4 linked regions of the Homo sapiens genome follow. The protein of the gene in region 2 purifies or fractionates together with the protein of the main gene of each other region. This does not show direct contact. Each region holds a gene or a part of one and is shown on either strand. Other genes may lie near its edges. The genes, in order: WDR44, RAB11B, CHML and DNPEP.

What was found.
Region 1: the proteins of RAB11B (region 2) and WDR44 purify together in Homo sapiens (affinity purification with mass spectrometry; 4 studies listed by BioGRID and IntAct, with this or other methods). This does not show direct contact.
Region 3: the proteins of RAB11B (region 2) and CHML purify together in Homo sapiens (affinity purification with mass spectrometry; 4 studies listed by BioGRID and IntAct, with this or other methods). This does not show direct contact.
Region 4: the proteins of RAB11B (region 2) and DNPEP purify together in Homo sapiens (affinity purification with mass spectrometry; 4 studies listed by BioGRID and IntAct, with this or other methods). This does not show direct contact.

What each region holds. Positions count from the first base shown.
Region 1 is NC_000023.11:118,446,570-118,451,171, reverse strand, and holds the end of WDR44 (WD repeat-containing protein 44), read right to left. Parts: intron 2,280-4,602; coding exon 2,185-2,279; 3' UTR 1,211-2,184; downstream 1-1,210. UniProt on the Homo sapiens protein: Downstream effector for Rab11 which regulates Rab11 intracellular membrane trafficking functions such as endocytic recycling, intracellular ciliogenesis and protein export.
Region 2 is NC_000019.10:8,384,797-8,393,892, forward strand, and holds the start of RAB11B (ras-related protein Rab-11B), read left to right. Parts: upstream 1-5,563; 5' UTR 5,564-5,620; coding exon 5,621-5,660; exon of another isoform or gene 5,661-5,895; intron 5,896-9,096. UniProt on the Homo sapiens protein: The small GTPases Rab are key regulators of intracellular membrane trafficking, from the formation of transport vesicles to their fusion with membranes.
Region 3 is NC_000001.11:241,636,786-241,644,953, forward strand, and holds the start of CHML (rab proteins geranylgeranyltransferase component A 2), read right to left. Parts: upstream 3,585-8,168; 5' UTR 3,470-3,584; coding exon of another isoform or gene 3,097-3,469; intron 1-3,096. Other genes in the region: OPN3 (opsin-3), read right to left, coding at 3,097-3,469. UniProt on the Homo sapiens protein: Substrate-binding subunit (component A) of the Rab geranylgeranyltransferase (GGTase) complex. Binds unprenylated Rab proteins and presents the substrate peptide to the catalytic component B.
Region 4 is NC_000002.12:219,384,148-219,393,363, forward strand, and holds the start of DNPEP (aspartyl aminopeptidase), read right to left. Parts: upstream 3,766-9,216; 5' UTR 3,648-3,765; coding exon 3,612-3,647; exon of another isoform or gene 3,429-3,611; intron 3,216-3,428; exon of another isoform or gene 3,131-3,215; intron 3,017-3,130; coding exon 2,923-3,016; intron 2,834-2,922; coding exon 2,745-2,833; intron 2,632-2,744; coding exon 2,518-2,631; intron 2,265-2,517; coding exon 2,139-2,264; intron 1,952-2,138; coding exon 1,821-1,951; intron 1,560-1,820; coding exon 1,484-1,559; intron 1,385-1,483; coding exon 1,277-1,384; intron 297-1,276; coding exon 219-296; intron 1-218.

The sequences.
Region 1 (4,602 bases), on a different chromosome or scaffold from region 2:
CTAACGGGAAGGAAGCAAATCCAAGTTTACCTGACTCTAGAACCTGTGATCTTTTTTTTTTTAATAATACCATATCACTCGTTATAGAGAATATCTAAAACTCATTTTAAAGAGAAATAGTGTTCTTTTTTTCTATATATTTTGATGCTACCTTTTAAATTCAGTGTATTCATATAGCAATAACAAGTGTCAGTATTATGCTTTTTTTTTTTTGAGACAGAGTTTTGCTCTTGTTGCCCAGGCTGGAGTGCAATGGTGCGATCTTGGCTCATCGCAACCTCCGCCTCCTGGGTCCAAGCGATTATCCTGCCTCAGCCTCCTGAGTAGCTGGGATTACAGGTGCCCGCCACCACGCCCAGCTAATTTTTTGTATTCTTAGTAGAGATGGGGTTTCACCATGTTGGCCAGGCTGGTCTTGAACTCCTGACCTCAGGTGATCTTGGCCTCCCAAAGTGCTGGGGTTATAGGCATGAGCCACCACGCCCGGCCAGTATTATGCTTTTAAGCTTGCATCCCAACTCGTTTTGTCTTTTTGGTCAAGTAACCACATAAAACCTATCACGAGATAGTCATATAATAATACCCTGATTATCTGCAGTTAAAACAATCAACACCACAGCCGACTACAAGTTCTCAGGCAGAAGTTAGTGAAAGCCAAGCTGCCTCAAAGAGCTGAAGACATCAAGTTTTAAAAAGAAACACTGGATCAATCACAATGCCACCCAGACCTTGAGATTAAAGAAACTGTGCCTGGTTTTTAGAAAGCCAATGGCATAACAATTCAGTCAGGGAGAGTACAGGAGAGTGAGGAAGCCAAAGCAACCAGAGAGATGAGGAGAGGGGAGGGGGAAGGGTAGAGGGAGAAAGCACAGCACTGGCAAGAAGAAAGCAACAAATAATATGTAATTTACTAGAAAGCCTAGAACACTCTAAGACCGTGCTAATCAACAAGGATATGTCCGTGGCTCCCCAACTTCTCACTTACATGCTGAAAACAAATGCAGTAAAGAACATATAAGCATATAGATGAATTCTTAGCACTGTTCAATTTAAAGCTAGAATTAAAAAAATTTTAAGGCATGTAACTAATGCATTATAATTTAGGGATCTAAAATCTGGTCTTCTGTTGCTAAAATTTAAATGATTAAAACAAGAGTTTATTTTTCTTGCATTCCTTGATTTACTGAAGTCAATTAAAAATAAAGTCATGTTTAAACAAGTGTTGGAGACCAACTTTTAATAATACATATTTAATTTTCAGAAACATATGCTAACCATCAACAACATGATCAGGGTTTCATTGCCCCAGATGTTATTTCATTGGTACATTATATTGATATTTACAAAGGCTTTCAAATTCAACAACACAAAACAAAACAGCTTAATTTTTAAAAACTACAATGCTTTAAAAAAATGTAAACAGTTTAATTTTTACATTATTGTAAAAAAGAAGACTCACTCCTTAATGTGGCTTAATTTTTTTTTAAGTGAGCAAAGCCTGGTGCTCATGGATAAAGAATGAAAATAATTCTTTACATAGAAACATTGTGCTCCAGTGTGGCAAAGAAAAAAAAATTATATGTACACATATAAAGAAAAGAATCTTAAGCCCACAATTTAGACCACAAAAAAATCTTGTCCCCAAATTGAGAAATTTATAAAAACCATTTACATATGGTTGTTGACCTACTGGAAACCTATATACCATTTTCAAAACAATAACTCAGTCAAAAGATACCACTTTTATTAAAAATGAAATTTTGTGCAAAAAAAAAATTGTTTAAGCTAGAAACAAGACTATCCCCCCTAGTAAGAGGCCAAAAGAGCCACTGAAATAATTTAACTCTGTTAGATTTAATGCATGTAACCAAAAGGCACATACATGTGATTAATATATTAATATCTTTTCATGCAGAAACTTGTGCATGTTCATAATTATACAACGAAAACACAAACATAACAAAACATAAAGCCTAATGTTTGGCAATGTTATTCTAGCCATATTCCTTTCTACTCTATCAGCCCAGGGTTTCCTAGATCATTAACACTGCCTCTCAAAAAATATATTATATTTGAACAACTTTCAATAAAAATTAAAAAAGTATGTTAGCCTGGAACACTATTTTTTCAGTTTTGATACATATAGAAACTTACTGATATGTTTATTTTAAATGCCATTTCAAATTAAGATACATTTTTTCTTTTATTAACAAACACTTTGATTGCTCCAGTGAAGTCAGCAGAGAGAAGAACTTCTGTGTTATCTGTCTTCATAATACCTTAAAAGTATAAAAAATAGTTTTAAGTTGATTTTTAAAGGAATATGAAGCCTGCTGCCACAATTATCACATGCCCATGACCCTCCAGCTTCAGGGGAGAAGATCATCTCCCCACCTTTTCAGTCTCCTTTTCTGGCTGGCTCCTGTAATTCTTTCATTCTGCTGAATCTCTCCTCTGCTCTGAGGCTCACTTTCACTTACCTTGTCTTAGCTGGTCTTTCCCTGGCTTGAGGATATTACAGTCTCTTGGGGCCTGGATGCTTGGACCTATTCCTAGGCAGCCTAGGCATCTAAGTCATCTAATGCTTCATTGCATGGCAAGAAGCTAGTGTGTCATTCAGCCCCAGGACTGGAGTGCTGGCAGAATCGGATCAGCTGGGCAAGTCTGTTGCTAACAGGGGTGTCTAGCGAGGTTGCCAGTAAGGTTTATTGTATAGCAGACATACTGAAACTGCCATGAAATGAAGTACACACGTTTGCTGTGTGAATGCTGACAGCACCTTTTGCCATATGGTCCTTACTGAAAAGCTATATAACTATGCTGAATGGCATAAATGCTTACCTCTTACATTTGCCAGTTGCATAAAAGCACTTAATAAAAAAATTCAGTGTTAACTAACTCTATTATACATAGGTGAAAACTGAGATTTTAATTTGAGATTTAAAAAAGAAGAAAATAATCCAAACTTTAATTGGAAAGTTGTGGACAGGATGAGTCACACAAAATGGTTTCACTTAGATGTGCTAAAAACATATCCTAAGCCTTTGAACATTCCTTTACCACCCTTTTGGCATATCTCACAGCAGTGCTGTGCAGTAGTAGCAGCAGCAAAGAACTTAGGAATATGAGAAAGGATAGAGAAGAAAATAATTCACCATACATATAAAATGCTTTGTAAGACACAATAATAATGAAAATGATAACAATAATGCCTACTACATGCCAGGCATTTTGCTAGGCACTTTTACACATACAAGTATATATATATATATATATATATATATATATATATATATTTTAGATAGAGTCTCACTCTGTTGCACAGGCTGGAATGCAGTGGCACCATCATAGCTTTCTTGTAACCTCATACTCCTGGGCTCAAAGGATCCTTCCACCTCAGCCTCCCTACAGGCATGCGCCACTGTGCCCGACTAATTATTTAATTTTTTGTGAAGACAGGGTCTTGCTATGTTGTCCAGGCTGGTCTCAAACTCCTGGTCTCAAGTGATCCTCCTGCCTTGGCCTCCCAAAATGTTGGGGTTACAGGCATGAGCCACCATGCCCAGCCTATACATGTCATATCTAATTCTTATTGAAACTCTATAAACTAGGTTATCATCATTATTTTACACATAAGGAAAATTGAGGCTTGAATTGCCAAACACGTCAGGAACAAAGAGAGAGGGGAATTGAATATATTTTGTGATCCCACATTTTGGGTTTAAGAGAGCTTATTCTTAGACTACACCTACATGGGTACAAAATGACAAACACAAATCTGAGTACAATCCACTAAAATTTGTGCCTCTTAAAAAAGGACCCAGTTAGTTAACTGAACCTTGTTAATGTGGTATATTTTTGAGAAGTTAAAAAAAACCCTGTACTTTTTACTTTTCCTCAAATTGTTTTAAAAGCTAGAATTTCCTGTGGAATATGCAGGGGAAGTATATGGAATGTAAAAAGGTAGCACTGGGGAAAAAAGAAAAGAAAAGAAAAAAAGGCCAGGTATGATGTCTCATGCCTGTAATCCCAGTACTTTGGCCAAAGTAGGACTAACCTTTTTGAGGCTAGAAGTTCGAGACCAGCCTGGGCAACATAACGAGAACTCATTGCTAGCAAAAAGAAAAAAAAAAAAAAAATTAGCCAGGCATGGTAGTACGTGTAGTCCTAGCTACTCGGGATGCTGAGGCAGGAAGATTGCTTGAGCACAGGAGTTCAACGTTGCAGTGAGCTATGATTGTACCACTGCACTCTAGCCAGGGCAACAGAGCGACACCATGTCATTCATTCATTCATTCATTCATAAGTTAAAAAAAAAAAGAAAAAACGTAAATGACTTAAGTTAGAAGACAGAAGCTGGATGTGATTCTGAGAAGGAAAGAAAAAGAAAACAGACAGCAGTTAAACAGGCATTTAGTAAAGGTTTAATCATTCTAACTTGGTTTATTTTTGTATCTTGTACTGAAAGAAATGCTAGACTGAAGTTCATCTTTGTTATCAAAATTTTTCTTCACAGACAGAAGGAAAAGTGTCATGAGTGGAGTAGATAGTCCAAATAATACTACAAAAAAATTACTTGAGATTAAAGTACTTGATAACTTT
Region 2 (9,096 bases):
AACCCAAGGAGGTGGCAGTCTTACACAGCCGAAGCCATCAAAAATGGGAAGAAGAGGGGAGAACAGCAGCATAAGTGGCTAGCAGAGGCAGGGAAAGACCAGCAGAAAGGAAAGAGAGAAAGAGACAGGAAGTCAGAGAAAGAGAGAAGAGAGGAAGAAACAGAGAGACAAAGAGAAGGAGACAGAGAGGAAGAGACAGAGACAAAGAAGAAGTCAAAGAGAAAAGGAGATAGAAGTAGTAAAAAAAAAAAAGTGTACCCTAGCGTAAATTTAAAACCTATAATTGATAATTGAAGGTCTTCTCTGTAACCTTATAACACTCCAATACCACCTTGTTGTCAGTGTAAACAAGGGCATAGCCGGAAAGCACTGAGGCCACTGACAACCTGTAGCCTTCCTATCAAAAATCCTTAACCCAGCAGGTTTCCTAACAGGAGATCTAAATCTTAATTAATTACCATACAAAGGTCTGACCAGATCTAGGAGGAACTCCCTTCAGGACAGGATGATAGATGGTTCCTCCCAGGCGATTAAGGGAAAAAGACACAATGGGTATTCAGTAAGTGATAAGGAAACTCTTGTAGATGCAGAGTTAGGAAAATTGCCTAATAATTGGTCTGCTCAAACATGCCAGTTGTTTCCACTCAGCCAAATCTTAAAGTACTTACAGAATCAGGAAGCAGCCATCTATACCAATTCTAAGTTAATATGGACTGAACAAGGTCTTACTAATAGCAAAGAATAATTGAAATCCCAAACTTACAAGGTTTTCAACAAAAGTAAAGTTTGCTAAAAAAGTTAACAGTGTAACATGTATTATCCTAACTTCTAATCTTATGGAAATCAGACCGTATCTGTGCCCCTCAAAGCTCAAGTCTATCAGCGCAGGGCCATACAACTAATATCCCTACTTATAGGGTTAGGAATGGCTACTGCTACAGGAACCGGAATAGCCAGTTTATCCACTTCATTATTCTACTACCATACACCTTCAAAGGATTTCTCAGACAGTTTGTAAGAAATAACAAAATCTATCCTTACTCTACAATCCCAAATATACTCTTTGGCAGCAGCAACTCTCCAAAACCACTGAGGCCTAGACCTCCTCACTGCTGAGAAAGGAGGACTCTGCACCTTCTTAGGGGAAGAGTGTTGTTTTTACACTAAACAGTCAGGGATAGCACGAGATGCCACCTGGCATTTACAGGAAAAGGCTTCTGAAATCAGACAATGCCTTTCGAACTCTAATACCAACCTCTGGAGTTGGGCAACATGGCTTCTCCCCTAGGTCCTGTGGCAGCCATCTTGCTCTTACTCACCTTTGGGCCCTGCATTTTTAACCTTCTTGTCAAATTTGTTTCTTCTAGAATCGAGGCCATCAAGCTACAGATGGTCTTAAAAATGGAACCCCAAATGAGTTCAACTAACAACTTCTACTGAGGACCCCTGGACCGACCCACTGGCCCTTCCACTGGCCTAAAGAGTTCCCCTCTGGAGGACACTACAATTGCAGGGCCCCTTCTTCCAGCAGGAAGTAGCTAGAGTGGTCATCGGCCAAATTCCCAACAGCAGTTGGGGTGTTCTGTTTAGAGGGGTGATTGAGAGGTGAAGCCGGCTGGGCTTCTTGGTTGAGTAGGGACTTGGAGAACTTTTCTGTCTAGCTAAAGGATTGCAAATGCACCAATCAGCGCTCTGTGTCTAGCTAAAGGTTTGTAAATGCACCAATCAGCGCTCTGTGTCTAACTAATCGCGTAGGGGACTTAGAGAACTTTCCTGTCTAGCTAAAGGATTGTAAATGCACCAATCAGCACTCTGTGTCTAGCTAAAGGTTTGTAAATGCACCAATCAGCACTCTGTCAAAACGGACCAATCAGCACTCTGTAAAACGGACCAATCAGCACTCTGTAAAGTGGACCAATCAGCTCTCTGTAAAATGGACCAATCAGCAGGATGTAGGTGGGGCCAAATAAGGGAATAAAAGCAGGACACCGCAGCCAGCAGCGGCAACGTGCTTGGGTCCCCTTCCATGCTGTGGAAACTTTGTTCTTTCACTCTTCCCAGTAAATCCTGCTGCTGCTCACTCTTTGGGTGCGCACTGCCTTTATGAGCTGTAACACTCACCGCAAAGGTCTGCAGTTTCACTCCTGAAGTCAGCGAGACCAAAAGCCCACCAGAAGCAAGAAACTCTAGACATGTCTGAATATCAGAAGGAACAAACTCTGGACACACCATCTTTCAGAACCGTAACACTCACCGGAGGGTCTGTGGCTTCATTCTTGGAGTCAGCAAGACCAAGAACCCACCAATCTGGACACAGGATGTGTTATACAAAACTTATAGGAGGCTATTACTTTGGACTGACTTCCTACACCAGGCCCAACAAACTAAACCAAAATGGAGTCACTCATGCTAAAGTTTTACGTGATCAAAAAGAAACTAAGTTGTTTATCTGACCTTCTACAAAATCAGGAGAGAGAGAGATGGGATAGCCAAGTCTCCCACCAGGTCAGTTTTAGCCATCATGATAAGGATGTCCTCTCTGCTTTAACCTTTACAAGAAAAGTAACTTTGGGCTGAGTGCGGTGGTGGCTCATGCCTGTAATCCCAGCACTTTGGGAGGCCAAGGCAGGAGGATTGCTTGAGTTCAGGAGTTCAAATCCAGCCTGGCCAACAAGGCAAGACCCTGTCTCTGGAAAAAAAAAATTAGCTGGGCATGGTGGCACACACCTGTGATCCTAGCTCCTCAGGAGGCTGAGGTGGGAAGATTGCTTGATCCCAGGAAGTTGAGGTTGCAGTGAGCTATGATCGCACCACTGCACTCCAGCCTGGGTGACAGAGCAAGACTCAGACTCCAAAAGGAAACTTTAAAATGACCAATCCAAGTTTTCTTTTCTTTTTTTCTTTTTTTTTGAGTCGGAGTTTTGCTCTGCTCTCCCAGGCTGGAGTGCAATGGTGTGATCTTCGCTCACTGCAACCTCCGCCTCCCTGGTTCAAGTGATTCTCCTGCCTCAACCTCCTGAGTAGCTGGGATTACAGGCACCTGCCACCGCGCCCGGCTAATATTTTTGTATTGTTAGTAGAGATAGGGTTTCATCATCATTATCATGTTGGTCAAGCTGGTCTCGAACTCCTGACCTCGGGTGATCTGCCTGCCTCGGCCTCCAAAGTGCTGGGATTACAGGCATGAGCCACTGCACCTGACCTCCACGTTTTATTTTCTGTTTGTGCTTTACTTGGCCCTTTTTCTGCCTGTAAAACCAACCTACCTGCTCAGCTCATGGGAAAATTAGTTTCATTTTGTGAAATGAAGTGTTGCCCGATTGTAGAATTGCAAATAAAATCAATTAAGATCTTTAAACTAAATGTGTTGTAATTTTGTTTTTTTGACAGATGCCCAATGAACACCCTGGGAATGAGATCCAAGAGGCGATAATGGCATCTGCTCTAATAACTAGTACATTGACTCTAGGCTTAGATTATTCACCACTGAATAAATAAACGTATTTATTCAGCAGTGGGGAACTTACAGCAATGATGGGGACAGATACAGTCCCTGATGTCATCAGGCTGATATGCTGCTGACAGAGGACAAAAAACAAACAGATCAATGGGTCAGGAAAGCAAGGCTTTTTTTTTTTTGAGACAGGGTCTTGCTCTGTTACCCAAGCTGGAGTGCAGTGGGGTGATCATGGCTCACTGCAGCCTCGATTTCCCAGGCTCGAATGATCCTCCCGCCTTGGCCTCCCAAGTATCTGGGACCCTGGCATGATGCACCACATCTGGCTAATTTTTGTTGTTGTTCTTTTCTTTTTTTTCCTTTTCTCTTTTTTTTCCTTTTTTTCTTTTTTTTTTTTTTTTTTTGAGAGACTGGGTTTTGACATGTTGCCTAGGCTGGTCTCTAGCTCCTGGCCTCAAGTGATCCTCCCACCTCAGCCTCCTCAAAGGGCATGTTTTTAGGCATAAGCCACCGCAGCCAGCCAAAACAAACAAACAAAAAGTAACGTATACTTTGTGTTAATAATTTTGCATAGTATATTGAAAATTTGCCAAGAAAGTACATTTTAGATACTCTCACTACACACACAGTTAATTATGGAAGGCAATGGATAGGTTAATTGCTTAACTCTCATAATTGGCCATGTGTGGTGAAAATGCCTGTAATCCCAGCACTTTGGGAGGCCAAGGTGGGCGAATCACCTGAGGTCAGGAGTTCGAGATCAGCCTGACCAACATGGAGAAACCCCGTCTCTACTAAAAATACAAAAAAATTAGCCAAGCATGGTGGTGCATGCCTGTAATCCCAGCTATTCGGGAGGCTGAGGCATGAGAATCGCTTGAACCCGGGAGGCAGAGGCTGCAGTGAGCCGAGAGCACACCATTGCACTTCAGCCTGGGCAACGACAGCAAAACTCCGTCTCAAAAAAAAAAAAAAAAACTGTCATAATTATTATTTCACTGGGTACATGTGTATCAAAACACACGCTGTACACCCTAAATATATAAAACAAACACATACTGTATTGTCAGGTAGTGATAAATCCTATCACTACCTGACAATACAGCAGTATGTGTTTTATTTTCTATATTACCTATTTTTATATTTTACCTATGTGGCAAAATATAGGACAAAAGAGGGGTAGTGGTAGGAGGTCCTGTTGGAGAGCATTGGTATCCAGTAAGGATTTAAAAGTATTTATTTAACAAAGAATAGCAGAAAGTGGACGGTTGATTCACACTTGGTGCAATCTCGGCTCACTGCAACCTCCACCTCCCAGGTTCAAGCGATTCTCCTGCCTCAACCTCCTGAGTAGCTGGGTTTACAGGCACCAGCGACCACGCCCGACTAATTTTTGTATTTTTAGTAGAAACGGGGTTTCACCATGTTGGTCAGGCTGGTCTCGAACTCCTGACCTCGTGATCCGCCAGCCTCGGCCTCCCAAAGTCCTGGAATTACAGGCGTGAGCCACCGCGCCTGGCTGATCTGGTTATTTTCAAAAGATTCCATGAGACGGGTTTCTTCAGTTTACAGAGGAGGAAACTGAGGCACAGAAGGATAACCCAGTGAGTCCCAATATAGAGATGGAGACTGCAACCGAGAAAGGGGACCCAGCGCTGAGGTCCCCGGAAATGGTCATTTATGGGCTTGGGGGGCGACCAGGGCAGCGCGCGCTGACCTATGACGTCATCGGGACGTTAAGCATCGTAGCATTACCTGGACGTAGCCCCATTTCTCTTCCCGGACAGGTCCTCTGATAGTCGGGTAGGTTCTCAATCAAGCCTCTCATTAGTTATTTGGTCTGTCAATCCATTTCATTCCTGCAGTCTTCCGCCCCGCCCTCTTGAGCTCGCCCCTGATAGGCTGGCGCGTCCGTCACTTCAAAAAGGTCCGCATTCCTTCCGCCTTTCTCCAGGACACCGAGGGCGAGGAGGGTGGTACCAAGCGGCGCCCACCCTCAGAGCACTACTTCCATCTCTGATTGGCTTCGCTGGGTGCCCGTCGCTACTCCACTCGCCGCTGATAGGCCATTCAACCGCCGCTCTGCGCGGCGCCGGCTCCGCCCCCGTCGGGTGTTTGTGGTGGGGCTGCGGAGTCGCCGATCCCGCCGGAAGCGCCAGGACAATGGGGACCCGGGACGACGAGTACGACTACCTATTCAAAGGTGCGGCCGGTGGGGCACAGACGGGCGAAGTCGTGGCGGCGAGGCGGCGGGCAGACGGGCCAAGGCCGCGCTCCAGGCCGCTGGGCCCAGGCCGGAGCCCGGGGCTTGGGGCCCGGCGGGTCAGGCAGCCGGGAAGGCCGGAGCCGACCGGGCAGCATCAGCTTCGGGCTAGGATGCGCGGCTATACGGAGCCGGAGGCCCGGAGAGACCTGGGGGACCTAGGACGCGCCGGGGCGGGGCCAGAGCCTAGAGGGGGTGGGGCCCGGAGCGGTGGGAGAGGCTGTTAGGGCGGGGCCTCCGCAGGGGGTGGAGCTTTCCCAAGATTTGGCGGGCCGGGCTGGGCTGAAAGCGTGATTCGGGATGGGGGCGGGGTTTTTAGGGGCGGGGCTAAGGCGTGATGGGCGTGACCAATAGGTGGGTTGGGCCTGGGCAAACGGAGGCGGGGCTCTCACGAGGCTTGTCCTGATTGGGGCAGCGTGTTTGGGGGTGGGGCCCGGGAGAGGCGGGGCAGGCAATGGGGGCTGGGCCGAGATGAGGGCCTGGGGGTGAGGTGTGTGGTGGTGGGAGCCTTGGATTGGGGTGCAAAGCTGGGATTGAGTGGAAAGGCACCCGTGTGTGCAGCAAGAATTCCATCTCTTCACTCAGAACTCTCAACAGTGCTAAGCCAGTACTTGCACTTTTCTGAGCACTTTACCCGAATTAACTAAAATCCTCACTGCAGCCCTTTGAGGTTGATACTAACCAGCCTCTCTTTTTACACGTTGGGAAACTGAGGCCCAGAGTGACAAAGACACAGTTTATAAGTGTTGGAACCCGATTGAGCCCAGGCCACCTGTAGGCCTTACCACTTAGGAAGCGTGTCTTAGGGGGCTTGTGGCCAGCATCTGGGACTTTGGGTTGTTGGACCAACTTCTTCCAACACGTGCGCACTGATGGCCGGGGCCCCAGCCAGCCTGCTGGAGGGTCTTCCCCGCCCGAGGGACTGAGGGGGCTCTAGGAGCATCACATAAGGCCTAGGTAGATCAGGCAGCCATTGCCCATTTAGGGACAGCTGGAGGAAGCCGGAGTCCCTTGTTTCTCAGCTGAGCCTTCTGTGCCCAGCTACACTTTGGCCTAGTGGTCTGCCCTGGTTGCTGGGCTCCCTGGCTGACAATGGCAGCCCTTGAGGGCTAACCCCTGGATCCAAGGTGCCTTCACCCTGCGGCCTGCTCTATGAGGGCCTGCGTCGCACATCAGCTGTTGGTATCCTCACCTCGCTGAGCCGTTCCTCCGAGTGTGCTCTGTGGCTTGCACCAGGCCTAGCTGGGCCTTGTGTCTGGTCTCATCCAGCGTCTTCTGATTGTGGGGAATGAGGCAGAGGTCTCCCCACCTGGGCTGTCCGTGTGGCGAAAGCCTTCCGGGGGGAGGGAGAGGAAGTGCCTCTACAAGGGCCTAGAGTCGTCCTGTGGCACTGAGGGCTCTGGCAGCTGCACACAGGTTGATAATGTCACTGGTGGGTGAGGCTCTGTGGTCAGCAGGTGCCCGGCCCAAGGTCTCGCCCCTCGTGGCAGGAGGAAGCTTTGGAAGGGTTTTGGAGACTGGGATTCTAAGGGGCCGTCTGGAGACAGGGGGACTAAACTTTGGGTCCTGCTGATCGGGTGCCATCTCCACTCAGCCCACCGTGAGGCAGCTGCTCCCAGGTCCTGGCTGGGCACCCACCCAGACGTGGCACTGCCAGGGCAGGGGTGTTGCTCCCCACATGCCCCATCCAGGTTTCTGTGGTTATCCCCTGCTTGTTATTTTTGCCCTTTTGCTGTGTTAAATGACCCAGCTCCGAGTGCTTGCTCAAGTCATGGTTTTGCCCTTTAGATTATTTCCTTGAAGTGCGTTCCCAGCAGAACAGTTACTGGGTCAGGAGCAATGGAGAGGCTGTGTGGTTCCCGGGACTTGTCTGCAGAGACTGCTTCCTGGAAACACTGATTTAGCTTCTGCGGCATCTGGCATTTGGCGGGCAGGCGGTGTGGGGTGGGGGGGGGCGGTGCCTGCCCTGCTGCCCTCCCCACACTGGCCTCCTTTTACTGAGTCTAGCAGGTGCCCTGCTGACCTTCTCAAGCTAGTTGGTAGCAAAAATCTAACCCACAAGTTCAGCTTTTCCCAAACTGGTCATCTGCCGTCTCACCTTCACAGCTGTGCCTCATCAGAGGACCTCCTCTATTCTCTTTCAATATTTTTCTTTTCCTTTTTCTTTTCTTTTTTTTTTTTTTTTTTTTTTGAGACAGAATTTTACTCTAGTCACCCAGCCTGGAGTGCAGTGGCGCAATCTCGGCTCACTGCAGCCTCCGTCTCCCGGGTTCAAACGATTCTCCTGCCTCAGCCTCCCGAGTAGCTGGGATTACAAGCACCCACCACACCCGGCTAATTTTTGTATTTTAGTAGATACGGGGTTTCACCATGTTGGCCAGCTGATCTTGAACTCCTGACCTCAGGTGATCCACCTGTCTCGGCCTCCCAAAGTGCTGGGATTACAGGCATGAGCCACCGTGCCTGGCCTCTGCATTTTTTTTTTTTTTTTTGGTGGCCACATCACGCACTGGCTCCCTTGACTTCAGCGGCCAAGGCCAGCAGATCCCCCGGGTGATGCCCCGTGTGCCATTTGTTTTCCTTCGTGAATGTTCTTTCCTTCCCCCAGGAATGACACTGTTGATTTGTACCTAATTATAGAGCCTCACATTTATCCTCCTAACATTTTCTCCTTTAGCCATGGGCCATTTTCATAGCCTGCCACTAATTGCCGTGGGACCCCAGATTTCTTTTCTGATGGACTCGGTACTCCATGGTTGCAGCTGTGTCCCCAAGGGCCACTGAGGTCCTCTCAGAGCCCTTCCCCTACCCTAGAGGCCCTGGCCAATCAGGGCTCACCTGGCCCTGGAGGACATGGGTCGTGGGGGAAACGGGCCGCAGCTGCCCCAGGCCCTGTCCTCTGGGTCTTGTCCACCCCTCCCCTGCCCAAGGACAAGGTGGCCCCTGTCCCCAGGGAAGGGGCCTGCCTGGTGCTTCCCTTTCTGTGCTGAGGCTCCTGAGGCAGCTCCCAGCCCTCAAGCCTGGGCAGACCTCACAGTGGGCCTGCTGTTCCAGTTGCTGTTTGGGGACCCAAACATACCATCTTCCCCATTTAGAATGGGGGTCCCTCCAGTGCCCTGGCTCTGTACACCTCCCCATAGAAGAGCTGAGACAAGAGTGGCCCCCAGTGCCGGTCCCTGGGGCCTAGGATGCTTAGGACCAGCTTCCAGGGGAGGGATGGGGGCACTGCTTGGCTCCGCCAGGCTCTGCCGGAATGGGGGCACCATTCCCCTGAAGAGTCTCTCAGTCTGCCTGAGCATTAGGGTCTGGGCCCCCAGGGCCACCACACTGTCATGGGGCAGGCCAGGGCACCTAGGACTTCTCAGAGGTGCCAGTT
Region 3 (8,168 bases), on a different chromosome or scaffold from region 2:
TAAAATATCTTAACATAAATAATACCTACTTCTAACATTTGAATACAGTGATGTTTGCATTTCGCCACTGTCTCTGCAACCCTGAATCTCTGCATCCCAAGCAAAAGGTCTATCTAAACATCCTCTGCCAAGACTAACACTGTTTGTTCTTATTTTTGAAGGGGAAGTTTAAAAAAAAAAAAATAATAAGGTTCTCCTGTTAACTTTGAGCATAATGCTGGTTACATTCCATGTGCGGAAGACATCTGTGTGATGCCCTGTGTGGCCAGAGGTAGAAAGGCCAAGGTGCTGAAGAGCATACTCACCTGAAAGTCTTTAGGCTAAAGCAACAATACTGCTAAACTTTCTAATATTCATCATTGCACAGTTTTGAGCTCTGGTTTTCACTACTGTTAAACCTACTGAAATATAAATCAGTACAAGCTGTACCTGTCTAGCCCAAGATGACTAATAATCCTGGATACTGGAAAAACAAGCCATTCAATTGGAACTTAGATTAAATTGCATAGGGCACACACCTTTAGTTTAACTAAAATGGCAATCCTAACAGTCCTGTCTAGTCAAAGCCTCTGTCTCAAAAATATCAAGGATTCCACTCATTTTTGGCATTCCCTAAGAAGCCAGGAACTAAGTACAGAATGCAGCAGTTGCCTGGCCCACTCAAGTATAAATATAAGTATGTCTGAATTACTTATTCTGCTTCTTCCAGCAGGGTGTGAAGATGGAGACTGAATCTATGATGGTATCTGAAGAGGTGTAACCATAGTACATGCTGCTTCTTGGCTTAGAAAGACAGGGCTCAGGGTAGGAGTAGGAGCAGAAGACACAATCAATAAGCGCTAAGATCAGGCACGTTCTAACCTACAGATATCAAAGGGGTCATCAAAATGCAAAGCAAGTAGGATGGCCTTACAGAGCATTAAGCTGAATTACCCAATAATAGAGATGAGAGAACTGATAGCTGGAGAGATTAAGTGACTTGAGAAAGCCCGCACAATGCATGAGTCGCAGGATAAGGAACAGGATCCACTCTTGTGCCATCAGACCAATGGTCTTTCCAACAGATAGGGCAAGCCTCTCCAAAAGCCTCTGCATCAAGAAGCTACTTCCCTCATTTTTAACTTCCTCCCCTTCAATACTCCACTGTTAGGTAGTTCTTGCTCAGGGATAACTCAGGAAGTGCCCTCCTTTTCTTCATCCTTAACCTGGATCTAGAAGCACAAACTCCGGAATTTACTCCAGGCAAAGAAATCATCTTCGCTAAAAACTTTTTAAACTCTATAGTAACTTCACTACTAACTTGCCCCCCAGGGCTTAAGTCTCGGAATCTCTTATCTCAGGGTTTCCACCTCTACATTAAAAACAGGGAGAAAGTCATGGTTGAAAGCACTAAATGCCCTGAAAAATAGGGCAGCCCTCAGGCAAAAATCTAAGTGAACTTAGAAAATCACTGGGCTGGGACCCTAGGAGGGATGGTGAAGAAGAAAAACAGGAAGGGAGAAGTGACCAGGAGACACAGGAGGGTGGGATCAGCAGAGGAAAGAGGTGAGGAAGAGGGTGGATGACAGCTAGCACTTATAAAGAACTCAGTACACCCTTGTGTTCAAACTCCCGGGCACGAAAACAGAATTTTCCAGCACAGAAAAGGCACTTCAAGGAAAAAAGAACTTTGATGTCTGTGAACAAACACCTGTTGACTACCCTGGAGAACACTACTGATGATACTTTAGGCTTGGGCTTGAATAACCTTCTTAGCATTGCCGAAGAAACTGCCTGATAGGTATTTTACAATTAATATAAGGAGTGTAATCCCATAGTCGTCCATACCACAGCCTACATACACTTGCAGTCCCCTCCCTAAATTTCAAATGTTTGTTCAAATGAAATTATCAGATTAAAGCTTATGAGGGGCGGGGAGGAAAATATTATAACCTCTGAAGCAATCAAATAAAATCTATTTTCTTATTTCCTTCAAAACGCCAAAAAATGAATCATTACAAATATAATATTTGGGTTTGTCATAGCATAGAGGTTACTGAATAAGAAAATATTTTTGATAATTCTACAAAGATTTTTGTTCTCCCAAACCTACCAAGATTAAAGCAATAAAGTATCAATGGATTTCAGGATTTAAAAAAGGAACTTTAAGCCTTGAGAAATACACATTTCTATTTCAAATCTCCCTACAAATGAAATTCCTGAGGCACACAAAAAAATAATTTCCTTTCTACGCTTCCTTCAATGATTTGCTGAGTTGTTGATCATCCTTCAAAACATCATGTCTCAGTGAAACTTAAATCTTCCATAATAAGAGTACTGTCGAAATACATCTTCAACAATGAAGTTCTACTTTAATGAAATCTACCGATTGCAGAGCTAATTACAGTATTTGTTCACCTGAGATGGTATTGGCTGAGCCATTTGTAATCTCACCCAAGATTCTGGTGTGCTGGAACCCATCTATAAGACGGAAAATAGTAAAAACAGCTTACAGGGCACATGCCAATTTGCATTCTGAGGACCTGAATGAAACTGTCTCATTCCCTAGAAAGCATTCAAAGGTTTACAAGTACTAATGAGAATTTTTTTTTACACATTGTTATTTTGGTTTTCTACTCTCATTTTAGGAAACAAATAGTAGTACATGAATCTAATCTCATCACTCCCTCCAACTTTCACGAGTTAATCACTTTTTTTCTTGAATCTCTTGACTCTACAGGCCCTCGTCTCTTTCCTCAAAGTGTAAAAAGCCGTGGTTTCGTGCCTTGTTGAGTGATCTTAGGAGGTAAAAACAAATAAGAAAGGAGGCGGGCCGGGGTTTGGGGTCAACGTGGGGGGCAGATGAGAGACCACAGGAATGGAGTCCTGGACAGCGTGGGGCGGGAGGGGACGGAGGAAGAGGAAGGCACCCGCCATGCGGCTGGGGTCGGGCAGCGTTGAGGAGGCGAGCGGGGAGCGGGGCGGTGTAGGGCGGGGGGCGCGGGGCCGAGCGGGAAGCGGTGCGGGGCGGGCTGGGGGGCGGACGCACGGAGCGGGCAGCGGGGTGGGGAGTGGAAGTTTGCAGAGGGGAGGCTGCCTTCTCCCAGTCCAACTCACCGAAGAGGCTGCCGCTAAACCCGTCCCACACGCAGCCCACGGTGTCCCACACCCAGCCGTTCCTCAGGCAGGACACGAAGGTAAAGGTGACCCCGAAGAGGGACACCAGCAGGTCGCTGAGGCTGATGTTGACCAGGAGGAGGTGAGTGGGAGTGCGGAGCCGCTGGAACTTGTAGTAGAGGACGAGCACCAGCAGGTTGTTGCCGACGCCCAGCAGCCCAATGGAGCCCAGCAGCAGCGCCAGGCGCTCGTAGGTGCCGGGGCTGAAGAGGGGCGCGGGGCTCAGTGTCCCCGCCGGCGCCGGCCCCTCAGCGCCCGCGGCCCCGCCGCCGTCCCAGTAGCCGTGGCCGCCGCTGCGGTTCCCCGAGTACATGGCCCGGCGCCGGCGCGCCTGGCGGGCGGAGGCGCTCAGCTTGCGGCGGGGCTCGCGGCGCGCTCCGCACTGGGTGGGGTTGGGGCTCCGCCGCCTGCTCTAGCCATTGTGCACTGAGGGGCCCGCGCTACCGCGCGCCGGGCCCGCCCTCTTCCCGCCCCTTCCGCCCGGCGCACCCCCCGTGGCCCCGCCCCTCCCCGCGGCCTGTCCTCGTCGCTCCGCTGCTCCCGGCGCGTCCTCTTAGCCCCGCCCCCCCGCGGGCGCGTCCTCGCGGCTAGCTCGCCCCGCCCCCACTGGCTGGGCACCTTCCGCTGGTCGGCGTGGACGCGCGTCGCGGGATAGCCTGGGGGCCAGGGCCGCAGGGTAGCCTCGATGGCTCTTCACACCCCCACCTCCCTGCACCCACCTTGAAAGCTTCGTGTCCACTCACCCATTCATGCACTCACTTATACATTCATTTATTCCTAAGTATTTATGAGCGCCTGCGCCCACCACGTGCTGGCAAGAATTGGGTTTCTCCCCTTCCTGGGAAGCTGTAATAACCCACAACCAGCCTACGAAGCCCATCCCGCGTCATACACTCAATGTAAACAAAAGCAAAGAAAACATTGAAGAGCTCGGGGTAGTCTTACCGGAAAACTGAGAAGAAAAACAACAAATTGATAGACAGGTGCCTGCCTAACTACCTGACTGCTAGAGGACACATGTCCCAGGGCTGATACAAGAGCCTGCCACCCTTGGAGAGTCTGGGATGAAAACTCTCTGAAAATGGCATTCCAATGGAACTGACTTTAAGCCCTGGGCTGGACCCCAAGGCCTTCCAATACCGTCCTTCCTGTGCTTGAAAGCGTGGGTAGATCTTTCCGGTCACTGAGGCCTGCTAAAGTCCTTCACAGGCAGTGAAAGATTCAACCTAAATCTAGCAGGTATAGGAGGCAGGTGCTATATTTAGAACAGCACACATTTCCCATTGGGCCTCTTCTCCTGTAGTGATGAGAATATAGTACAAGTCAAATATAGGTTGTGAACGTCATCACACTCTGCAAGAGCTGCTTCTGCCTTTGTGGTTGCACAATCCCTAAGGAGGCCCTACAAGAAGATCACAGTCCCCAGCCACACCTGCAGCCTGTCCTGGACACTGGTGACGAACACAGGGTTTGTGCAAGCTAAAGAAACTGCTCTCCATACGGGCGTGCCTCACCTCTGTTTGAAAGATCAGTAGGGAATGACTAGCTTGGATCAATCCACATTCTGAATTCCCTGGAGAGAGGATCTAATAGGCTGGCAGCAGCTCTCCACCCTGGTGCACTGAGCAATAGCTAAGGGGCAGTGTGCTCTGCCTTTGACACCTTGATTTTCCTTCAAGGCTTCTGCTCTGGACTCGCCATCTGTGAGACTTCCTACCCACCCACCCCTTAAAAAACACACACACACTTTTAATTGTTAATTTTAGATTTGTACAACCACTGAACAAAACATAACTATTTAACAAGTTCTATATGTTTAATGTCGAAAGTGTTTTCTGTGTCTAGTCTACAGTAAGTTCTCAATAAATAGTAATTTGAATGAATGAATAAAGAACTCGCTATATTTTTTCCTATTCATTCTTCATTGCTGAGTCATTGCCCTTATAAAGCTCACATTCCAGTCGTGTTGGGAGAACAAACAAAAATTAGATAAATACGTAGGGTGTCAGCCACTGACAAATGCCATGAAGAAATAGGGGTCAGGCGTGGTGGCTCATTCCTGTAACCCCAGCACTTTGGGAGGCCGAGGCAGTAGGATTTCTTAAGCCCAGGAGTTCAAGACCAGCCTGGGCAACAAAGTGAGAACTGCCCCCTAACTCTTCAAAAAATAGAAAATTAGCCAGGCAAGATGGTACATGTCTGTGGTCCCAGCTACTCAGGAGGTTGAGCCAGGAGCTATGGGAGATGGGGCAAGGAGTTTGTAAGAGTTAAAGAAAGAGGAAAGAAACACTAATAGCAGCTCAACAGTCAGACAGTGTTATTTGGAAGAATAAACCTAAGAGGGGCTTCTGGCCGATTTCGGTCAGGAGCACTCTCTTACAGACTAAGAGTATTTAAGGATTTTAGAGTGAGAGAGCTTATCACAGGCGTGGAATGTTTCTGTTTGGAGAAGAAGTTTATTGCCAAGTTGGAATGTCTCTGTCGGAGGGGAGGTTATCTCGGGGCTCGCATGTCTCTGGTCAGGGAGGGGTTTATCTTAGGGTTGGAATGTTTCTGGTCGGAGATGTCATTTGTGGTGTATGGTCATGCTGACCTTAGCCATTAGGCTGATGCTGTTTGGATTTAGGTGGTTTTTGATCAAGGGGAACTTTAAAATGGCAGTGCTTGTCCATGATGGTGATGCACCTGCTCTGTCAAGGTTGTTATTTAGACAAGGTGGTTATGGGCAGGAGTACTGTATTGGTATGTTGGAGGAACAATAAGGAAGCAAGAATGAGAATCGGGAAATGCAGCCAGTCAGGTGGGTGTGCAGTGAATGGCCAGAATATGCAGGACCTTGGCCATTTCAATAAAAGGACTTTGGCTTTTACTCAATCAGAGTAAAGTCCAGGGCAATGCCTACTAGCAGTGAATGCAAAGGAGGAGTAAGAGGCCTTTGACAAATGCTTAAGCATTTTTGACACAGTAATTTTACAATACTATGAACCATTAAGGACATTTATTGAGCTTGACAGAAACAGGCAATGATAAGGATATATGTTTCTTTTTTAATTTTAGAATTATGTAATGACAGGATAATGGCAGAACACTACAATCTTTTATTAAAAAAAAAAACAAAAAACAAACAAATGAAAAACACCAGCATGATATAGTTTGGATGTTTGTCCCCACCCAAATCTCATGTTGAAATATAATCCCCAATATTAGAGGTGGGTCCTAGTGGTAGGTGTTTTGGTCATAGGGGGCGGATCCCTCATGAATGGCCTGGGCCATCCCCTTTGTGATAAGTGAGCTCTGGTCATCTAAAAGTGTGTGGCAACTCCGCCATCCCACTCTCTCTCTCTCTCTCTCCCTATCTGGTTGTCGCCATGTGAGATGCCTGCTCTCACTTTGCCTTCCACCATGAGTAAAAGCTCCCTGAGGCCTCCCCAGAAGCTGAGTAGATGCCAACACCATGCTTCCTGTACAGCCTGCAGAACTGTGAGCCAATTAAATCGCTTTTCTTTATAAATTACCCAGTCTCAGGTATTTACAGCAGTGCAAGAACAGCCTAATACACAGCATAAGGACAAACATGTAGACCAATGGAATAGAATAGAGAGCCAAGATATAAACTCTTACATATATGGTCCATTGATTTTTGACAAGGATGCCAAGGCCATTCAATGGGGAAAGGAGGAAAGGACAGTCTTTTCAACAAATGATGCTGGGAAAACTGCATATCCATGTGCAAATGAATGAAGTTGGAGCCTTACATTATATCATATATAAAAATTAACTCAAAATTGATTGGAGACCTATATGTAAAAGCTAAAACTATAAAACTTTTAGAAGAAAACTTCTTGGGTATGACACCAAAAGCACAGGCAACAGGAGAAAAATAGCTAAATTGGACTTTATCAAAATTAAAAACTGTTATGCATCAAAGGGCACTATCAAAAGAGTGAAAAGACAGCACAGCAAATGGGAGAAATACTTGCAAGTCATATATCTGATAAGGCATCAATATTATAAAGACCCCCTACAACTCAACAACAAAAAACTCCACACAACCCAATTCAGAAATAGGCAAAGGATCTGAGTAGACATTACTCCAAAAATATACTAATGGCCTAAAAGCACATGGAAGGAAACTTACTGTGATTAGTCATTAGGGAAATGCAAATCAAAGCCACAATGACATACCACTTCACACCTACTAGAAGGGCTATCATCAAAAAACAAAACAAAACACAAAAACAAGTGTTGGTTTTTGTGTGGAGATGTGTAGAAATTAGAACCCTGTCGTACTGCTGATGGGAATGTGAAATGGTGTGGCTCCTGTGGAAGACAATTTGGTAGTTCCACAAAAAGTTAAACATAGAATTATTGTGAGCTCATTCCTGTAATCCCAGTGCTTTGGGAAGCTTAAGCAGGATGATCACTTGAGGCCAAGAGTACAATGACCAGCCTGGGCAACATAGTAAGACCCCATCTCTTCAGAAAAAAATAAAAAATTAGCTGGGTGTGGTGGCACATACCTGTAGTCTCACCCAACTATTCAGGAGGCTGAGGCAGAAGGATCCCTTGAGCCCAGGAGTTTGAGGTTGCAGTGAGCTGTGATCGTGTCACTGCGCTCCACCCTGGGCAAGAGAGTGAGACCCTGTCTCAAAACAAAAAAAATTGCCATATGATCTAGCAATCCTATTCCTAGGTATATACACAAAAGAATTGAAAGCAGGGACTCAAACAGGTATTTGTATACTTATGTTCATAATAGGATTATTCAAAATAGCCAAAAAATAGAAACAACTCAAATGCCCATCAACAGATGAATGATACATGGAATGTGATATATACATACAATGGAATATTATACAGCCATATTTTAAAAGAAATGAAATTCTAGTACATGCTACAACATGGATGAACCTTGAAAACATTACGATAAGGGAAATAAGCCAAACACAAAAGGACAAATATTATATGATCCCAATGATATGAGGTACCTATAACAGGCAAATTCACAGAGA
Region 4 (9,216 bases), on a different chromosome or scaffold from region 2:
CCTCAACACCCTGATAGTGCAAGGGCAGAGACCAAAGGTGGCGATGCTGAGGCTGCAACATTTAGGGCCCCCTCCTGGTCCATCCAGCACCAGCAGACTGAGCGGGTAGACAATGGCCCTCTCTCACAACCTGCTGGGGCTTTAGGCAGCTCCCCCGACCCCAAACATACCACCTCTGCTGGTGGTTATGTGCTGCCTGGGGCGCCCCGGCTCCTCACCTGCAGGGCACAGAAGCAGCTGTGCAGATTGTCCAGCCGAGGAGCAAAGATGAACTCATCATAGGCACCACCCAAGACCTAGAGAGGTAAGACAGTCAGCCCGACCTTCAACCCTCCACCCCCACTCACCTTTCTTTTGCTCCCAAGGGTCTCCTTGGTTTCTTGCGCAACCTCTCCCTGACCCCTGGCTTAGGGCACTATTTTGTTTTTTCTTTTTTTTGAGATGAAGGTTCGCTCTTGTCGCCCAGTCTGAAGTGCAATGGCTCGATCTCGGCTCACTGCAACTTCCGCCTCCCGGGTTCAAAGGATTCTCGTGCCTCAGCCTCCTGAGTAGCTGGGATTACAGGCATGCACCACCAGGCCCAGCTAATTTTTGTATTTTTATTAGAGACAGGGTTTCACCATGGTGGTCAGGCTAGTCTCGAACTCCTGACCTCATGTGATTCCCCCCGCCTCAGCCTCCCAAAGTGCTGGGATTCCTTGCTAGGCAGGACCAAGCAGAGATTGGAGAAGGGGGCTGGGTTGGTGCTGAGGAACAAAAGGGTGGAGGCCAATAGCTCTTGACCTCTTCCTGTGGGTCAAGAAAAGGAAGGGCTGAATTGTCATCAAAAAGGCCAAAGAAGTAAACAGAGGAAACCAGCCAAAAAACAGAAACTTAGTACGTGTTCAAGCAGGACACAGCATCCAAAGATTTAGCAATCTCTGACCATCAGCAACCGGGAGACAGAGAACAGATGGCCACATCCAGGCCTCTTTCCCTAAGCAGTTCAGTGTCAGTGTGGGTCAAAGCAGACAGGGCCCACCTGTAGAAGAAACTCTTTGGGAATCTGTAAAAAGGGCCAATTCCCAGATAGTCCTAGTGGGCAGGTCTGGGGTAGGGAACTTGTCTTTTTGAGAACCACCGCCCTAGAAGCAGTGGGGGATGTGTCTACTGGGAAAAACGGGGATGAGAGTTACTGAGGGCTTGGTGGAGGTGATGGGTGCTTCAGCAGGACGGGCTAGGGGTGGCCAGGATCCTGGAGGCCCTTCACCCACAGGTTCCTACAGCCAGTCCTCACCGCAGGCTGGGTGTCTGCAAGGCAGAGCTCCATCTCCACTATGTCCTTGGGGCTCAGCCCCAGATGGGCACAGAGCAGGGACATGAGGACCGAATGGTGCCGCTCATCCTGAAGAGCAGAAAGATGCTGGGAAGAGTCCATTCCTCCTCTCCTCCCCACTTCTCAGGGGACTCTGCCGCCCTCCCCATGATCAGGAGACTCTCTTACCACAGCATTGAGAGGCCCTGGCTCAGGAGTCCCCTTCTCCAGCTCCTCCTGGATGGCTGTGGCAAGAATGGGGACTCTGTGGGGAGACGTGGGTTGTGGGGGGATTGCGAGGAGGGCACAGCTGAGTGCGGCATCCATAAGTTCAGGTGCCTCCTGATGGGCAACTGCCTCTGCCCTTCAATTCCCAGCCCACTCCCCAAATCACAAGGCTGTGAGGACCCTTAGAAATTAACTGGGTCCCAAGAGTAAAATGTGACCTAATGGCTACCATTAGGTAATAATCACCTGGTACCATTCTCCATCCCTCCCAGCCACCGCAGCCCTGCCCCAGTCTCACAGATGCATCTCTGTGTTGGGCCCAAAGTTCTCGTTGATATTTCGCTGCAGATGGATGGCCAGGTGTGGGATGCGAAGAATGGGCCGCTCCACGTGCACCAGCTGCTGCTCCAGCCGACCTGAGGTAGGGCACTGCAGCCAGCCAGGCCAGGTCAGCCCAGGGTGCCTCCTACCCCAGTGGTCAGTCTTTACTTCACTCAGACTAAGCAGGGTGGTCCTCTGACCAGACTGCCCCCACCCCTCTTCCCCACGGGTACCCTGAGGAGTGTGGCAGTCAGTCTTCTGAGGAGGCTCCGCCATCCCCAACCTCGGTTCCCACCTTGACAATGACGCGTCCAGCCAGAGTCAGGTCACGGTCAAACCAGGTGCTCCAGATCCCACCACCATAGGTCTCCACACCGACTTGCTGGAAGCCCACCTGGCTGCGGCGAGACCGACGTTTCACCTGAGTGTAAAGATGGAGAAGTCAGAGAAGGCTTCATGACGATATGTGGAGATGAGACTTTGGCTACTCATAAGTAACAGACAGCGAATATTAGTGTCACATGAAAGGCTCAAGGTGTGAAGGAAGGGGCCAACAAGTTTACCTTCTCCCTTACTCCAGGGGATAGAGGCCCCAGTTTGTACCTCCTAGTTCTCTTTTGCCCTGTACTCCCTCTGACATCTCCTCCCACCCCAACACCGTCCGAGTTCCTTACCCGGAGGCAGGGGCTGTCCGTGTGGGCCCCGATGAGGCTGAAGCCATTGCCAGGAACGTACTGGCCCCCTACAGCAAAAGCTATGATGGTGGAGGAGTTCCTGGTCATGAAGTACTGAGGAGAAGGGGAGGAAAGACAGGGGTGTGAGTTGCATTACTCAGCTGGCACACAGGGCTTGGAGACCAGCCTAGGGACCTGCCTTTCCACCCCCACCCCACCCCCAGTACCTTGCTCTCGGGCTTAATATTCCATTTCTCAGTCTCCTTGAGTTCACTGAAGCCAGCCTGGAGAAGGCGGTTGCGGCATTCAGCCACAGCTGTGGGAAAAGCACCCTCTCACAGCGATGGAAGCTGGTGAAGGGCGCATCAGCCTCCACCCTCCTCCCTTGCCCTGGCCACCGCTTACCATGGAAAGGAGAGGGACTCCGGTTCACGAACTTGAGGAGTTCCTTAGCCGCAGTCTGCACCGCCTCTTTGCGGGCCTTACCGTTCATGGCCACCTAGGGGAGGGGGATGCTCAGACTTTTACAAGGTCTGGGACCCCTGACCTTTCACCCAGGTTCCGAGGATTCTCCCATCCCCACCCCCAGAAGTGACCACTCTAAGGCACAGACCTCTGCTTCCGCCCGTCCCCACCGAGAGACCCAAACCCAGGGCTGAAACTCCGTTGAAAGCTTCAGCCCGCCGGCCCAGGATCATGAGCCAGGCCCGCCCCTTAATCCGAACTTTAGCCCGACTCCCTAAGTCCCGCCCCCATGTCCCTGCCCAGCTAGGAAATCCTGTTCTGCTCCCAAACTCCGGGATCCCAAGCGGGCCCCATACTCTGAGGCGGCCTGCATCACGTGCGCGTACCCAGCCCGGAGCCAAAGCCCTGTACCCCAAGGAGCACCCTGACTCCTCTCTCGCACCCACCTAGTCTCTCGCAGGACTCCCCCTTCCAGTCCCGGGAAAGTCGTCAGGTCACCCTCCGCGGGGCTTTCGGTTTCGCTTTGGGTCAGGCGGCCCCACTGCAGCACCGCGCTAAGCTTGGGCCCCGGAGGGCGCCGGACCCGGTCTGGGATCGAAATTCAAGTGGGGCCGTCGGGAGCCACTTACCTGCATGGCCCCGCGCGTGGGGCTGTGTCCGCTCATCTGGCCTCCGGGCTCGGCCCGCCCCCACCGCGCCGCCTGCCCCGCCCCTCACTAGCTTTGCAGGTCCCCCGCGTGCCCCTTCAGGCCGCGCCGCACTCGTAGGCCTTCATCACGCTTCCCCGGCCGCGCCGCCCCGCCCCATGTTTGGCCTCCCCGCCCACCTCTCCCCGCCCCTCGGCATCCGCCCCGCCCACCTCGGTCAGCCCCGCCCCTCGGCGGGCTTACCCTGTCCGCTCCGCCCCTCGCTGGGCACCACCACCCGCCTTGCCCCGCCCTTGCCCCGCCCCTAGCTTGGCCGCACCGCCCGCCCCGCCCCGCCCCTCGCCAGGAAGCACCGCCCGCCCTGCCCCTCGCAGGGCTGCACCGCCCGCCCCGCCCCTCGTCAAGCTTCCTCGTCCGCCCCGCCTCTCGCCAGGCTGCACCGCCCTCCCCGCTTTGTCCCGCCCCTCACCAGGTTTCCCCCATCCGCTCCGGCCCTCGCTGTACCCCACTACTCGCCCTGCCCCCGCCCTTGCTCCGCCCCGCCCTTCGTCAGGCCTCCTTGCGCTCCCCGCCCCTTGTCAGGCCGTGCCGCCCACCCCGCCCCGCTCCTCGCCAGGCTGCTCCACCCGCCCCGCCGCTCGTCACGCTTCCTCGTCCGCCCCGCCCCTCGCTAGGCTGCACCGCCCGCCCCGCTTCCGCCCCATCCCTCTCCAGGCCGCGCCTCCGCCTCCGGCCCGCCCTCGTCTCCGCCCCTGCGGGGGCTGCTCGTTAGGCCCCGCCCTGCACCCCCGTCACCCACGCCGCGCGACCCGCAGCCGCCGCCAGGGCCCTCTGCTGCCGCGGAGGTGCTAGGACAGCCGCGGACGGCCCGCCTCCCCGTGCCCCGGGCCTCGAGGCCAATAAAAAGCTCGCCCCTCCAGCTCACCGGGTCCGACGGGTACGGTACAAAGTGCTGTCTCTCGCCACAGCCACCTTTGTGACAATAAAAGCAATAAGGCTAATGTCCATGGGGCGCTCACGGTGAGCTTTAGCTTTATGATAAAGATTGGCCTGTTACCTCGTTTAATCTTCACAACTGCCCCATCAACTATGTACTCTTACTGTCCCCAGTTTATGCATGAACAGAGAAAGCTGAGATACGGAGACTAGTGATCCGTCGAGGTAATAAACGGCACAGGTGGGGTTTGAACTCCATCAGTTTGATTGCAGAGGCCTGGAACAACCCTACAGCCTTCTCTCAGATCTTTTCTGGACCTTTTTCTATGCGCTTTGGTAAGTGTTATGTTACACGGGAGGTCCACAAGGGACACAGAAGTTGACTTGCCCAAGATCACATAGCTGTTTGGGTGGATCTGGGATTTGACTCTGATATCTGTGCCCTTTCCATTTGTTAAAAACAACAGAAAAACAAATTCCACATTATTGGCAGTTCCAGTATTCCCATGTCAGGAGTAGTGAGTAGCACGTTTAAACCCCATGCACCTTCCTAGCTGCAGGAACTGATCAGGACTCTTGGTGGCCTCTAGATCCAAAACAGGGCCCAGCTACCAGGGGTTCAAACAAAATTCCAGAGATCACAGGTTTATGGAGCAACCTGCCGTTTATATACCTGGGGTGGGGAGTGACAGGGTGGGATGGGGAGAGGCTGGAAAGGTCCTGCAGCCCTCACTTCAAACTAGTAGATATGGCAGGGGAGTTTTCAAGAATTCACCCACTAGGTGCTGGCTTAAATTCATGGCATTCCCTAACCGTTTGTTGAAATACCATTATGGGCCTGGCGCAGTGGCTCACGCCTGTAATCCCAGCACTTTGGGAGGCCGAGGCGGGTAGATCACTTGAGGTCAGGAGTTCGTGACCAGTCTGACCAACATGGTGAAACCCCGTCTCTACAAAAAATACAAAAATTAGCCGGGTGTAGTGGCACGTGCCTGTAATCCCAGCAGCTACTTGGGAGGCTGAGGCAAGAGAATCGCTTGAACCCGGGAGGTGGAGGTTGCAGTGAGCTGAGATCGTGCCACTGCACTCCAGCCTGGGCGACAGAGTGAGATTCTGTCTCAATAAATAAATAAATAAAATTATGTATAAAGCTCAATGCTGAGCAGGACATGGAGAGAGCATTCTTGTCCTCTACCTCCTGGGGAGGGGACACATTCAAGGAGGACAGTGAAAGGGCCGAAACAAGGCTACAATGTATAAGGGAAGGAGACAACCTGAATAAGGAACCACCTTTAATGTTCTTTCTGATCACAGAAAAGAGTACATGCTTGAGTAAGAGATTCAAACATCACCAAAATGCATAACTTAGAAAGTGAGCCGGGAGTGGTGGCTCACGCCTGTCATCCCAGCATTTTGGGAGGGAAATACAGAAGTGTTCCTATTCAAATCAGAAGTGAGACATTGATGAGCTATTACTGCTGCTAGACAATGTGGAGCTGTAGTCAGAGCCAGTACCACAAAACAAAATTAACAATTCTATATGTGCAAAAGTAAAATTGGTCATTATTTATAGATTATATGATTATCTAGAATCCCCAAGAAAATAAACGATCAAGCTATTATTAGAACTGGTAGGAAGGGTAGCCTAATTTAAAAAACACTGACTTTCTTGTACAATAATCACCTAGAAAATATAAAAGTAAAAAGGTTCTTATTGACCATTTTTGGTTTGGGTAAAAAAGAAAAAAGTAAAAGGGCTATATTTACAAGAGCAAGAAATATTGTTAAATTTCTAGTCATGAACATATGAGACACCTAATCTCACTTTAAACAGGAAAATGCAAGTTAAAAATGAGATAACAGTTGGGCGTGGTGGCTCATGCCTGTAATCCCAGCACTTTGGGAGGCAAAGGCGGGTGGATCACGAGGTCAGGAGTTTGAGACTAGCCTGGCTAAAAATACAAAAAATTAGCTGGACATGGTGGTGTGCACTTGTAATCCCAGCTACTCAGGAGACTGAGGCAGGAGAACTGCTTGAACCCGGGAGGCAGAGGTTGCAGTGAGCCGAGATCGTGCCATTGCACTCCAGCCCAGGCAACAAGTGCGAGACTCCAACTCAAAAAAAAAATTAATAAATAATAAAAATGAGATACTTTTTCTTTTTATTGAGCAGATTAACAAAAATGGAAAAGATGGGTAATATCAAGTGTTGGAGAAGGCTTGGGGTAATGCAAGCATTTTCTGGAGGCTAAAGCAACTCCATCTGGGAAGCTAATCTGCCATGTTGACTTTTCAACAACCTGTTCCAGGAATGACTCTAAGTTTTCTACTTTACCTACTATTACCATAAATCCTGCGCTTAGACAGATTCACATAGCATTCATGACTTTGCCTGAGGGGTCAACTTCAATTGTTTGACACATTGTTTCCCTATGGTATGTAAGCCCTGGGTTTGCAGGGTAATCCACCATTTCATCTCTGAAACTATGGCCTCTATTCATAAGTCCCTATGAAATGTTTCTTTCTGAGAGACTGTATATGTCAGCCTCTTTCGTCGGCTTTTCAGCTTCCCTGAACTTTGGGGGTATGTTTGCACAGACCTTTATACCCAAATTTCTGTGGTGTAAATGTTCCCCGTGGCCGATTTCAAGCTGTCGAGATGATGTCACTGAAGGGAGTTGGGAAGAGCTGTGCGGAAGCATGCCATTATGTAGATTTCCACCATGCAGACACAATGGATAGAAATAACATCAACAGCATAGATTTAAGAAGGCAGTAAAATGTTTGGAAAGGTGATGGATTTTTGGTTTTCATTATCTGTAATATAATTTATTTAATTGTAAGTGTATATAATTTAGTTTTTTTTAATGATTGCTGTGTTTAACAACAAGCTCACCAAATTCCTGGAAATTTGACAATCAGTTCTCATGAGCTTGTCCAAGTTGGCCCCAGCACACTATTCCACCCGTACTGTACATCTTTGCTACTAAATGTGTGATCTGTTGACCAGCAATGTCAATAACATCTGGGAGCTTTTTAGAAATGCAGAACCTCAGGGCTTACCCTAGAGTTATAGAATCAGCATCTGCATGTTAACAAGATTCCTAGATGATTTGAATGCTTGAGACACAGTATTTTAAAGTGCTGTGTAGCAGTTCATAAAAAAAAAAAAAAGGTCAGTCTTTAGGAATTGTTACAGAAAAGAATTCCAAATATACTGTTGAGTGAAAAAAAAAAGCAATTTCTAGAATGTAAGGTGAGGGCCTTTAGATAAAACTCACACAATGAGCTAAATTTATATTTCTAGATGTTATATAAATACATATGTAAATGGATAGAAACAGGTTTGGAAGGATAATGGTCACCTCTGGGTAAGGGAATGGTGATGGATTTGGAGTTCAGGTGGCAAAGTCAAGGGATGACTAGGGATCAAGAAAGAAAAAGTTTCTGAGAATCGTTCTTGCCCTTGGCCTTCTGAGAAAATCTTCCCTGGAAGATCTCGGCTGATGTTTACAATGCTACCATTATTCATTCATCTTTTTGGTTTAACACATATTAAAGTGCAAATACTTTTGCGTGAACATAGAAGTCAGTTACATACACTTCAGTGTGAGTTTATAAGATACATATGTCTTTTTTTTTTTTTTTTATTGAGACGGAGTCTCGCTCTGTTGCCCAAGCTAGAGGGCAGTGGCAACCATCTCAGCTCACTGCAATCTCCGCCTCCTGGGTTCAAGTGATTCTCCTGCCTCAGCCTCCCATGTAGCTGGGATTATAGGTGCCCTCTACCACACCCAGTTAAATTTTTTTTTTTGAGATGGAGTCTCACTCTGTTGTCCAGGCTGGAGTGCAGTGGCGCTATTTTGGCTTACTGCAACCTTCATTTCCTGGGTTCCAGAGATTCTCCTGCCTCAGCCTCCTGAGTAGCTGGGATTACAAGCACGCATCACCATGCCTGGCTCATTTTTTGTATTTTTAGTAGAGACAGGGTTTCACCATGTTGGCCAGGCTGGTCTTGAACTCCTGACCTCAGGTGATCCACCCACCTTGGCCTCCCAAAGTGCTGGGATTACACGTGTGAACCACCGCGTCCAGCCTAGAACTACAAACTATTGATCCTACCTTTCCCTATTCCTCACTCCTGTCTTCATGACTCTCCTACCTAGGATGAGCCATACATTCCACTGTTGTGCTCACTCCCTCGCACACACCTTCAAGTTCCTGCTCTAGATTTGCGGACTTGCCTGGCAAAACCCCAACCCTGACTGCAACCAGCTCCTCCCCTGCTCCAACCTGTGTGGCTGGAGAAACATCCAAGCCGCGCTGCCTGGTCTCACTTTAAACCAGTGGTGTCCGGTCTTTTGGCTTCCCTGGGCCACATTGGAAGAAGTAGAATAGTCTTGGGCCACAAATAAAATACACGAACCCTAACAATAACTGATGAGCTAAAAACCTTTCAAAAAAATCTCATAATGTTTTAAGAAAGTTTACAAATATGTGTTGGGCTGCATTCAAAGCTGTCCTGGGCTGCATGTGGTCCATAGGTGGTGGGTTGGACAAGCTTACTTTTTTTTTTAGTTTTTTTGAGACAGAGTCTTGCTCTGTTGCCCAGGCTGGAGTGCAGTGGCATGATCTCAGTTCACCACAACCT